Regions from separate parts of the Homo sapiens genome. Here regions 1, 2 and 3 are each linked to region 4. Evidence: fine-mapped expression QTL. A gene starts in region 4. Each other region holds a variant in brackets. All regions are shown on one strand. Distances are from middle to middle.

What was found. PIP is the estimated chance that this variant, and not a neighbour inherited with it, causes the effect.
Region 1: its variant is fine-mapped to the expression of DPY19L2 in prefrontal cortex (GTEx, PIP above 0.99).
Region 2: its variant is fine-mapped to the expression of DPY19L2 in gastroesophageal junction (GTEx, PIP above 0.99).
Region 3: its variant is fine-mapped to the expression of DPY19L2 in testis (GTEx, PIP 0.98).

The regions. Positions count from the first base shown.
Region 1 is chr12:63,712,905-63,715,593 of GRCh38, reverse strand. It overlaps the pseudogene LOC100418730. Among named protein-coding and RNA genes, the nearest start is that of DPY19L2, 46 kb to the right of the region's middle. The variant A/T (reference allele first, on the strand shown) is at 1,421.
Region 2 is chr12:63,324,153-63,326,841 of GRCh38, reverse strand. All of the region lies in intron 1 of LINC03056 (long intergenic non-protein coding RNA 3056), which reads left to right. Among named protein-coding and RNA genes, the nearest start is that of LINC03056, 48 kb to the left of the region's middle. The variant G/T (reference allele first, on the strand shown) is at 1,455.
Region 3 is chr12:63,999,315-64,002,003 of GRCh38, reverse strand. The region is part of intron 3 of SRGAP1 (SLIT-ROBO Rho GTPase activating protein 1); the gene reads right to left. The region is part of intron 3 of LOC105369801 (a long non-coding RNA gene); the gene reads left to right. Among named protein-coding and RNA genes, the nearest start is that of SRGAP1, 160 kb to the right of the region's middle. The variant T/C (reference allele first, on the strand shown) is at 1,161.
Region 4 is chr12:63,667,456-63,670,144 of GRCh38, reverse strand. It overlaps DPY19L2 (dpy-19 like 2), which reads left to right and starts at 1,652. Exons shown (of 22, transcript NM_173812.5): 1 at 1,652-2,088. The coding sequence starts at 1,752. RefSeq lists enhancers at 245-744, 745-1,246, 1,696-1,755.

The sequences.
Region 1 (2,689 bases), 45 kb before region 4:
ACGACACTGAGAAACATTAAGATATTCTTGGTGTGCTATGGAGAATGAACAAACTATTTATGATTTTACTTCCTTGACCTCAGAAATGATACTGTTTTGTACCCATTCTTTCTCCAGATAACGAAGCTGAAAATAGATAGCAATCCTTTTGCCAAAGGATTCTGGGATTCCTCCAGGCTCACTGACCTTGAGAGGTAATGAGAATTTTCTGTTTACTTTCTTGTTCAGATAAGATCAAGAGAAGAGGGAGTTTGTAACAACACACTCCTTTCGACACCAGAGAATCATAACCTTACTATATATAGTCTTCTATTCTCTGCCCCTATTCCTTGTACATATGCAACTGCCTAAGTCTGACAGCTACTGTGACTGGATCTATTATATGCTTAATTTCTGAGTGAAATAGTTTCTTTGGTCAGGACATTTATTCTACTATAAAAAATAGGGCTTTGTTGTTATTAAAGACTTAGTCCTCTTTACATTTTTAAGCTTCATGTCTCAATGAGTGGCAGTCTGTAGAGAAATAGAACCTTGGTAGCTTTTTACCTTCCCAAGTAGATATATTTGCTAACACAAAGAGTGTAAGGGTAGTTGGGGAATTTTAAAACAAGGAGATGTAATTTAATTCAAGGTCACATAATTTTACCAATATAGTAGACTGCTTTTATTTAATAGGAGAGACATCAGGCGTCTAAGAAGACAAGTGAAATCATGTGCCTGTAACGTACCCTACTTTTTATTCAATTAAAATGGTTCATGCAGTTTGAGACCATTGAGGTGATGAGTAATGACTATATGGAGATACATATTTTGCCCAGTATGAATGTCAAAAATTGTTTTTCAAAGAGAAGATTTTTAAACCTAATTGATTATTTTTACTTCTTAAACACACTAATTCTTTTATGTGGCCCAATGTCTTGATTGACCAGGGAAGTTCCCTAGCCACCAGAACCACTGATTTTCTTATCTCTACATCTGTGTAATTTCCCTACTAACTTCTGCACATTTCTGCTGCACTCTTTGTTACCTACATAGCCACATCTGCTGACCTCAGCACTTCTGTCTAATCTATCTTGGCAACTCAAATTAAAAGATAATTACATATTTTAACAACCTCTGTCTCAGCCTTCCTAAGCCTTCCCAAATGGCAGAATGTGAGGCGGAGGTTTGATTTAGGGGAACAGACTTAGAGGCTCAGTGGGGAAGCAGAGGAGCAAGCAGGAGAGGCTGAATGTTGGCCAGGAACTATGGGATTTGAGCAGAAAAGAAAGATTAAATAGTTGGAGAGCTGGACAAGTTGGTTGGAAGTGTTGGGATCAGGAAAAGAAACTTGAGCTTGTGATTGAAAATCCATTGCAAAGGGCAGAGAGAAGGCAAGTGGTAACTCTCAAGTTAGGTGGGATACAAATCACTGAGAATG[A/T]GGTACCAGCAGTGTGGGCAACAAAGGAGTCCACTTGCAAAAGGCAACTTCATTTAGGCATGACTTTATTTCCTGTTTCTGAGGGCCAGAAGCCCTGCTGCAGACCGGGTTTATGCAGTTGGGATTGTTATAAGTGAACTTTTTCTCAGTTTTATTCAGGTATTAAATAAGAATGGAGACAATGATGCAGTGGGGTGATAGTGATCTGTTTTTATAGTGTGTGTCATATTTTCTGTCTCAGACCATGGGGGTACGCATGATATATTGGGAGAAAAAAAAAGTTAGGGCTTAGAGTCTCACCTCTGCCTCTTCCTGGGTGAGTGATCCTGGAGAAGTCACCAGACTTCTGAGTCTGTACACTCATCTAGAAAATGGAAAAAATAACCCTGCTCACCTCAGAGGTTTATTCTGAGAATCAAATAAGCTGGCATTTATGACAGCATTTTATAAATCTAAAAATGTAAAATAATTACAAGTTCTTCATCTTGTTATATGAGCATTTCATCTAACAACTTTTATCCCATGTAACTCTATGTTTCATAGTCTTAATAAACTACTCCTAGAGTAAAAATAGCCTTGTAGTTGCACATTGGTTTACAAGATAGGAGGTACTCAGTCTGACTGCTCTTTAGAATGGCAGATTTGATAATGCATGTGGCCACATTTTCCACTTATTGGATAAGCATCCTGATGTGGGAGCACTCACATGTACATGAAGCTAAGTAGCTTTCAATGGTCTGAGGGCAAAGACAGCACTCTTATATGACTAGCTGAAAGTTTGCAAGATGACCTAAGTAGTGTGAAATTGGCCGAGGTTTTGGATTTCATTTCCAGATATTTAAGTCTGAATTTTTCATAAACAGCCTTTGGGGATGGGACAAATCAGATCAATTGATCTTTAGAGACCTAAAGAAATTAAATTAGTCTGAGTCAGTTACTGCACTAAACCATCTAGTAATTGAATTGCTCCTTGTAACTGATTGAAAACAGCCCTATCCTTAACAATATAGGGAGCTTTTCTTTATAAGAGATCTGAGAGAAAAACACATCTTTTTATGACATGATGACAGATATTGCACTTTTCTAACCTAATTGAATATGATGTTATAAATATGTGACCTTAATGATTTCAAGTTTCCTGTTTCAGATTTACAGCTTAATGTGTGGGACACCCAAACAAAAATGCCTTTAGGATTGGATCTGTTTGCCTGTACCTCTAAATTCACAATTTTAATCCTTCTACAGCTACACAAGCTTTTGAGATACTCT
Region 2 (2,689 bases), 340 kb after region 4:
GGATATTGAATAAGTTGAGTTTTCTTTGTAATTGAAACATTGGGTTTGTCTATGTTTCATGACATTATATGTTGCAGAAGGGAGTTTAATCAGTCATTTGGTTAAATGGCAAGAAAGATTAAATATTTTATCTGAAAAATAATTTCAGTGGCCCTACTGAGAACTCCCCTAAGCAATTCTCATATAACAAATACAATTATCCCTCTCTGGACTACCAGATATATACAATTTTGGAAACTGCAATGAATTTCAGGTCCTGATTTATAACTGCTATGGGCAAATAAAACACATTTTTAGGCTTTATAAAACCATATTAATAAAAACCATTTAGTCTGACTTCTCTAGGGAGCACAGTAACTCCTGAAATATTAAATTAAAAGAACACATGGAGGGGAAATTAAGTGAGCCAGATGTCAAAGGCAAAACATACTCACAGTTCCAAATTTAGTTGAGTGTCAATTGCCAAGTGTTACTAGATAAATTTCTATTTTCTTAATATTGCTAAAAAACCAAAAACCAAAAATATATACCTAATGTTGAAGTGAACATTAAGAAAAATAGTAGTGTATGATTGCTATATTTTTAATTTAATGTTTGCAGAATTGATCCAAATAAAATATAGCACCCATTTAAGTTCATATGATTGTTAAATAAAACAGCTCAAGAAGGAACAGGCCTTTTGAAAATAGTTCTTGGTGCAGTAATTATCAGATCCCATTGCCTGATCTAGAGGATATTAACTAAAATTTAATAATTAAAAGTAGAGGCAAAAGCAATATCAGAATGAGACTTTTGCCAATTTTCCAGGGAAAAGGAATTTGAAAGAGTTACTATTATGGTTAATAAGCAGCATTGGGAAAGGAGCCAGTAAGTCCATTGTTAGCACATCCTTTCCCACGAGATTCTATGGGTAATGTGATCATGATTAGTCTCTCCAGTTAGCATGAAATTTAATTAAAATAAATCAGGGCTCCCTTCCCTTCTGTGAGTCTTTTATTGGGATCAAAGACAAGATTCCCAGTGCTCCCTCAATCTGTAATCCTGGCTACTTGCACAGGATCCCATCATGTCACTCCTGCAAAACTACAGTTTCTTGGAAGTTTCACTTCTTAGAAGAGAACTAGGGCAGCAAAATCTGTTGAGTTATGCCATAATACCACCTGAAAGAAAAGGACTATATTCTGGATACAGAGTATTTAATTCTATCAGGGAAACTGGGTAGTGCAGAAACTTGGGGTTTGAATAATCTTATGGAAATAAGGCAGACATTCTTAGCAAGAAGATTTAAAGTCAGTCATGTGTTTCAGACAAAAAAGTTTGCTGTTAAAGATAATTTTCAAAAAAAGCTAAAACTTCTTACCAATGTAAAATGAACACATGTCAAAGACTTTATTAATGAAATGAGAGAATCAGAAAAGATGTTACGAATGGTTCACAGGAGAATTGAAAGAATA[G/T]ATATATTTATGGATCACGAATATTGAAATGATCTTGCAAATGGACCCCAAGACTTTTACAGATAGAAGGGCTGTCTCTATACTGGACAGGGGAAATTTACATGTCCACAAACAAGAATCATTTGCATTGCCATCAGTTCTGGACAAGTTCATTTCAATTTCTACAGATTTGAAAAAATCCTCCTCAAAGACCAAGGTACATATCCTATTGGTTCAGATAATCCCTGGAGGCTCCAATATTCTATTAAAAGAATATCCAGTAATCTGGCAAGGTTGGTATGCAGTGTTATGCTGGTAAACCCTCAAAAACCTAAACCCTTAGTTGTAGCAGTTGTGGATTTTTCTAGTGTAAATACTCCTACCATGGCTGATTACAAGCTTTCAATGTGTTAGCCCTGAAGATGGAGTTGCAAAAACATGTTCAGTACTTCCATTACATGCAGTAGCTCCATTGTATAGTATTTCTTCTATATGGATACAATAATACTAAACTTTTTTTTTTATTTTTTTACTAGCAGCACTTCTGATACCAAATAAATGTCTTTTGCCCACACCAACAAATTCTCCAACTCTCCCAAACAATTGGGTATGCTACAGAAATTCAATTTTGATACCAGCTACTCCTAGTCAGCATAGACCCACAGATTACGAGCTCCATCCCACAAAACTGCCCCCACCTCAGATGCGAATCACAAGTCTGAGTCATTAGTACCTGTGACTCCCTGGCTGTAAATCAGCTGTTCTCACGACCCCCTCCTCAGGTTCAGTAATTTCCCAGAACAGTTCACAAAACTCTAAAAAGCACTTTACTTACATTTACCAGTTTATTTATAAAGACTATCATAAGCTAAGTGTGGTGAATCACACCTGTAATCCCAACAATTTAGGAGGCTGAAGCAGGAGGATTGCTTGAGGCCAGAAGTCTGAGGCTGTGGGGAGCTATGAACATACCACTGCACTCCAGGCTGGGTGACAGAGCAAGACCCTGTCTCTAAAAGAGAGAAAAAGAGAGAGAGAATATTGTATGACCCAGGGAGTGGCGGATTGGTTTCAGAATGAAATTTTTCCACTTCGGATCATCAGGCATTAGATTATCTTAAGGAGTGGGCAACCTAGATCCCTTGCATGAGCAATTCACAATAGGGTTCTTGCTCCTATGAGAATCTAATGCCACCACTGATCAGACAGGAGGTGCTGCTCAAGCAATAGTGCTCACATGCCTGCTGCTCACCTCC
Region 3 (2,689 bases), 330 kb before region 4:
TCTTCCCCAAACTACCTGCTACTTTTTAATTTTCAGTTTTTAAACTGCTGCGGGTATTCAGTGTTTTTAAAAATGCCTTCAGTGGGAAAGGCATGGTGGAGTATACTTAGTCAATTTACCCAAAACCTATTTTTATCTTTTGATTTCATCTACCTTTTGGGGAGGGCACAGGTCTTTACCTAGTGTATCATTTAACTTTTGCTGTGGAACAAAACATCCAAATTTAGTGGCTTTAAGCAACACTTTACTTAGCTCAGTTTTCTGTGGGCCAGCTGGGAGGTTCTTCTGTTGTGAGCTGGCTTGGCTGTGTTCTTTCTTGCATTTGCAATCAGCTGGGGTCAGCTGGCAATTGGATGATCTAAGATGTCCTCAATATATGTGTAATATTTGGCTGGCTGTCACTTAGGAGGCTTCAGTTGCCTTCCATGTAGTCTTGTGCCTCATCCAGCAAGCTAGCTAGGACTTGATAACTTGTTACATGTCCAAAAACATCAAAAGAGGGCAGGCCACAATCTGGAAGCACTTTTCAAGTATCTGCTTGCTTCACATTTACCATTGTCCCATTGACCAAAGCAAGTCATATGGCCAAGCCCAAAGTCACTGTGGGCAAGAAATACTTCAGGGAGTTGATAAAAGGAAAATGCTAACTTTGCACACAATCTACCCAAACTAAGTGTGTATTCAGGAAAGTACACTACATATTTAAGATTGCTCTTCAGTTGCTTTTTAAAATGAATAACAACTTGGTTGTATCTAGAATTTTGGAGTTGTAACTTTCCTTCAATTGTCCTTGCAGGTTTTGCTCCATTGTTTTCTGACATTTAATATTATATATAAGACCTAATCTGTGTTCTTTTTGAAAAGAGGATGATTTTATGGAATGCTGGGTAGAAGTCATGCAAGCTTGAGGCTCGAAAGTACTACGTGTTTGTGTGTGTATGTGTATGTGTGTCTTTTCAGCAAGTTTGTTTGAAAACTCATATTTTATTTTCATATTGTGATATTTTCTCAAGTGGGGATTCTTTTTCATATCATATTTCTTTTATTTTTAATTATCGGTCCCTCCAAGGGTTGGTTGAAATCTTTTCTACTTTTTCTCAAACCTTATTTTCCCAATAGACCATTCTTTCTTCTCCTCTTGCTTATGAGATGTTATCACT[T/C]CTAACTTCACAAAGAAACAGGAATAGAGAATCCCGCATCCATAGGAACTCTTCTTTCATCTCCAAATACAGTCTTTTGCCAGAGGCTAATCCCTCTGCCTGTCCTTTGGGTCCCATTACCTGCCCCCTTGGCAGAGTCTTGGATCAATCAATTACACCTGTTCTCTCCTAACATGTCAAGCTTCCCTTTTTGTGGCTCCTTTTCCTCAACATATTATTTTTGGATTTTTTTAGACAGGGTGTCACTCTGATGCCCAGGCCAGACTGCAGTGGTGTATTCATTGCTTACTGTAGCCTTAAATGCCTGGGCTCAAGCAATCCTCCCACTTCAGGCTCCTAAGTAGTTGGGAGTAGAGGTGCACATCGTCATGGCTGGCTAACTTTTAAATATTTTTTCTTCAGAAATCATGTCTTGCTATGTTGCCCACGCTGGTCTTGAACTCCTGGTTTCAAGTGATCCTCCCACTTCAGCCTCCCAAAGCACTGGGATTACAGGCATGAGCCACCAGGCCTGGCCCTCCTCCACATTTTAAACTAGTTTGTCCTAACATCCTGGTTTTTTTTTTTTACACACACACACACACACACACACACACACACACACCCCTACCTTTCTTGACCAATGTTCTTCTTCAAATACTTCCCTTATCTTTCCTCCTCTTCACAGGCAAATTTCTAGACAATACTGTCCACATTTGCTGTCCTAACTTGCTCACTCAACATCTGCCATTCTGCCCAGACTGCTCTTACAGAGATAACCAATGACCCTTTGCTGCTCAGTTCAGTGGACATCATGGACCTTTGCATATTGACCACTCCCTCCTGGCAGCATTTTCTTCACTTAGCTTTCCGGACACCTCACTGACCTGCGTTTCTTCTCACCTCTCTGGCTGATCCTTCTCAGTCATTTTATAGGATACAGTTCTTCTTCTTATCCTTTAATTCCTAGTTTTGCTGCGAGTTTTTCTTACTCTTCCCTCCTCACCCTATATGTTCTCCCTGGTTTATCTCAGCTACTCCCAAGATTTTAATGACCTGCCAAAGGTGGAAGATTCCCAACTCTCTAGTCTTGATCTCTCTCCTGAAGTTCTTGGTCTGCTTATGGGGCTTCTCTACCCAGTTATCCATAGGCACACCCAAAAGTAAACACCGTGTTTTCCATAATCCCGTTCCCATCACAGCCTCTGTGTCCTGAGCCTTCTCCTCTCATATGACGCCTATCACCCTGACAACTGCCCAAGCCTGGGTGTCACCTCTGACTGCTCCCTCTACATCTCTCTTCTCTCCCACCCAGCCAATCAATTACCCAGGCCTACATATTCTATCTCCAACACACCACTCGAATCCACCTGCTCCTCTGTTTCTACTGCCACAACCAAGGAAGAGCATCCTCATCTCTCATCTGGATTAGTTCCAAGAGCTGCAAACTGAGACTTTCTGTCTTATTATCTTTCAATCCACTCTCCACACTCCAGGCACACTGAAAGTGGATCACGTCACTATCGTGTTTAAACCTGTGAATGGCTTTC
Region 4 (2,689 bases):
TTTTGAGCACCAAACACAATGCCAGGAATGCAGAAATGCTGCTTGAAAAAAATCTCCCAAAACAAAAAATGAGCAGTAGTAGCACTTACTGAATTTAACTGAGTGAGAAGATAAATAGTACTGTCAGTTAAGTGCTCTAGACCTTCAGAAAAAGCATAATTAATATGGGCTGGAGAAATGGGCTGGGGCTTGGAAGGTGACAGCATTCAGATGGGCAGGGAGAAAAGGATGCAAAAGCCAAGGGATGGCTTTTCCACATGAATAAAGGAATTCAGCAGTTATGATGTCTCAGGTTGTGGACTTTACCTGAAATGACTGAGATGGAAGATTTTGTGCCCGAGGAAGTGGGAAATTAAAGTTGAAAAGGTATATTGGGCAAATATTGAAGGCATTGGTGAGCAAGCCTAGGACTTGATTTGTGGGCCACGAACATTTTTGTGCTGTGTTGCATCAGGAAAAATTAACCTGGCCACAATGAGCCAGGCTTTAGATTGGTCAGTTAGGGTATGGGAGTTCAATGTGATCCATCATCAAACAGATGGGAAGTGAAGCGGTGTGGGCTCCAGCATGTGGCCCGTGACAGAGGACATGGAAAATGTCAGTGGCCCCAGTGCATCTGTGCCAGCCGCTTTGGCCTCTTGTAGGGCTGTGCGGTGACTGGGAGCTAAGCGCTCCCCTCTTAGTTGGTCCTGGCTGGTGCTGAAAGCGCTTGAGCACACCGCTCCTAGGGCTGATGACTTCTGAGGAACCTTATTGGAAAAGCATTTTGCTCTAAGATTCAGTAAACGCTGTCCCGTGCCAAGGAAGTGGCGTCAACCTGAGGCTCTGGGATCAGACCCACCGGACTCACGCCGGCTCTGCCACTTGTTGCCCGCAGTCTCGGCCCGTTCCCTCTGCGTTGGCAACGGGCACTGACTGTCCGATACCTCAGCGATCGTAGGGGAGTAGAGACGTTCCTAATGCCGGGCGCACCGCCGGCGGGCCGGCGGTTCCGTTGGCTTCCCTGACACACTTCCTACAGTCATTTCTTTCAGCTGAGATCTTTCCCTTTAATACCTCGTTAATTAACGTGTAATCTTTTGGTTAAAATGTCACAGCTAAGACTAAACCCGAAGAAAAGAATGAAACCACGGGAAGTTCTTCAGACAGTCGCCGCAAGGTTATGGGCCGAAGTGGTGCAGGGGCGGCGCCCGGGGAAGCGACTGGCAGAGCTGTGCGCACTGGGGGTGCTGCAGGCGCTGGGGAGAGTGTGGAGAGGCTGCGTGGAGCTGCGCGCTCGGGGTGGGGGCTGCACTCCCAATGAAGCGCGTGAAGGGCAAGCGGTGATGGGTTCTGCGCCAGTGGGGCTGGGAGCCCGTCCGGGGCTGTACATGGGGCTGCGCGCAAGGTGAGGACTGCGCATGTGGGCTTGGGGCCTGCGCGCACCGGAGGCTGCAGGCGCTGGGGAGGGTGTGGGGGGCTGTGCGTGGGGCTGCCCTCACCGGAAGCTGCACGCTCTGGGAAGCGCAGAGGCGGGGGTGCTGCTCGCGCTGGGGAGCACGTGAGGGGACACTCAGGGACTGCCCGCGCGAATGGCTTCCAACGCATGCGCCCCACCCCACATTTCACAGTCGCCATGACGACCGGGAGGTCCGCAACGGCTGCGGGGACAAGTCCGTTGAGGCTGCCAGGCGAGTCAGGTCTCTCTGGACCTCGCCTGACTCGGCTGGGCTGTGCCTGAAATTGACCCAGCTCCACCATACTCCTTGATTATGAGAAAACAAGGAGTAAGCTCAAAGCGGCTGCAATCTTCCGGCCGCAGCCAGTCTAAGGGGCGGCGCGGGGCCTCCCTCGCCCGGGAGCCGGAGGTAGAGGAGGAGATGGAAAAGTCGGCCCTAGGCGGCGGGAAACTGCCAAGGGGCTCCTGGAGGTCCTCCCCGGGGAGGATCCAAAGTCTGAAAGAGCGAAAAGGCTTGGAGCTAGAGGTGGTGGCCAAGACCTTTCTTCTCGGCCCCTTCCAGTTCGTCCGTAATTCCCTGGCGCAGCTCCGGGAAAAGGTGCAGGAACTGCAGGCGCGGCGGTTCTCCAGCAGAACCACTCTCGGCATCGGTGAGGAGAGGGCAGGAGAGCCCTAGGAGGGAGCCGCATGGCGCTTTTCTTGAGTCTTGAAGGAGATCAGTTTAACAAGCAAGGGTTTGTGGGTGCCTAGTAGGAAATAATAGCAAGGTCCGAGTAGAAAGAAGTTGGCCAAAGATCTTGTCATTGAACCAGGGGAGAGAGAGAGATAGGGAGTATATTGGTTTGAAGGGCTGTCAGATCGCAGAGAGTGTTTTAAGGTCTAGGAGTTTTAAAGGCTGAGGGGAAGGATCAAGAGAAGATGATGAGATTAAGATTCCAAGAGAGGAAATAATTAGTGGAGCAAGTCTTGCAATATTTGGGAGGGGTAGAATTAAAGGTACAAATTTGAGAAGCTAACTGTGGAAAAGAGGAGAGAGAATTCCTTTTCTGAGATGGCAGGGAGTAGAAAAGTGAGGATTACTATATGGAGAAATGTTAAAGTGGAAATAAAAGAAGTTGGGAGTGTTGGTGTCTAATGGTCTTTGTTTCAGTGAAGTATGAGGCTGGGTCACCTTCAGAGGTGAGATTGATAGGATGCCGTGGTCCAGGGGACATTCTTCTGTCACAGCTTGGAAAGGGCATGTGATAAGCC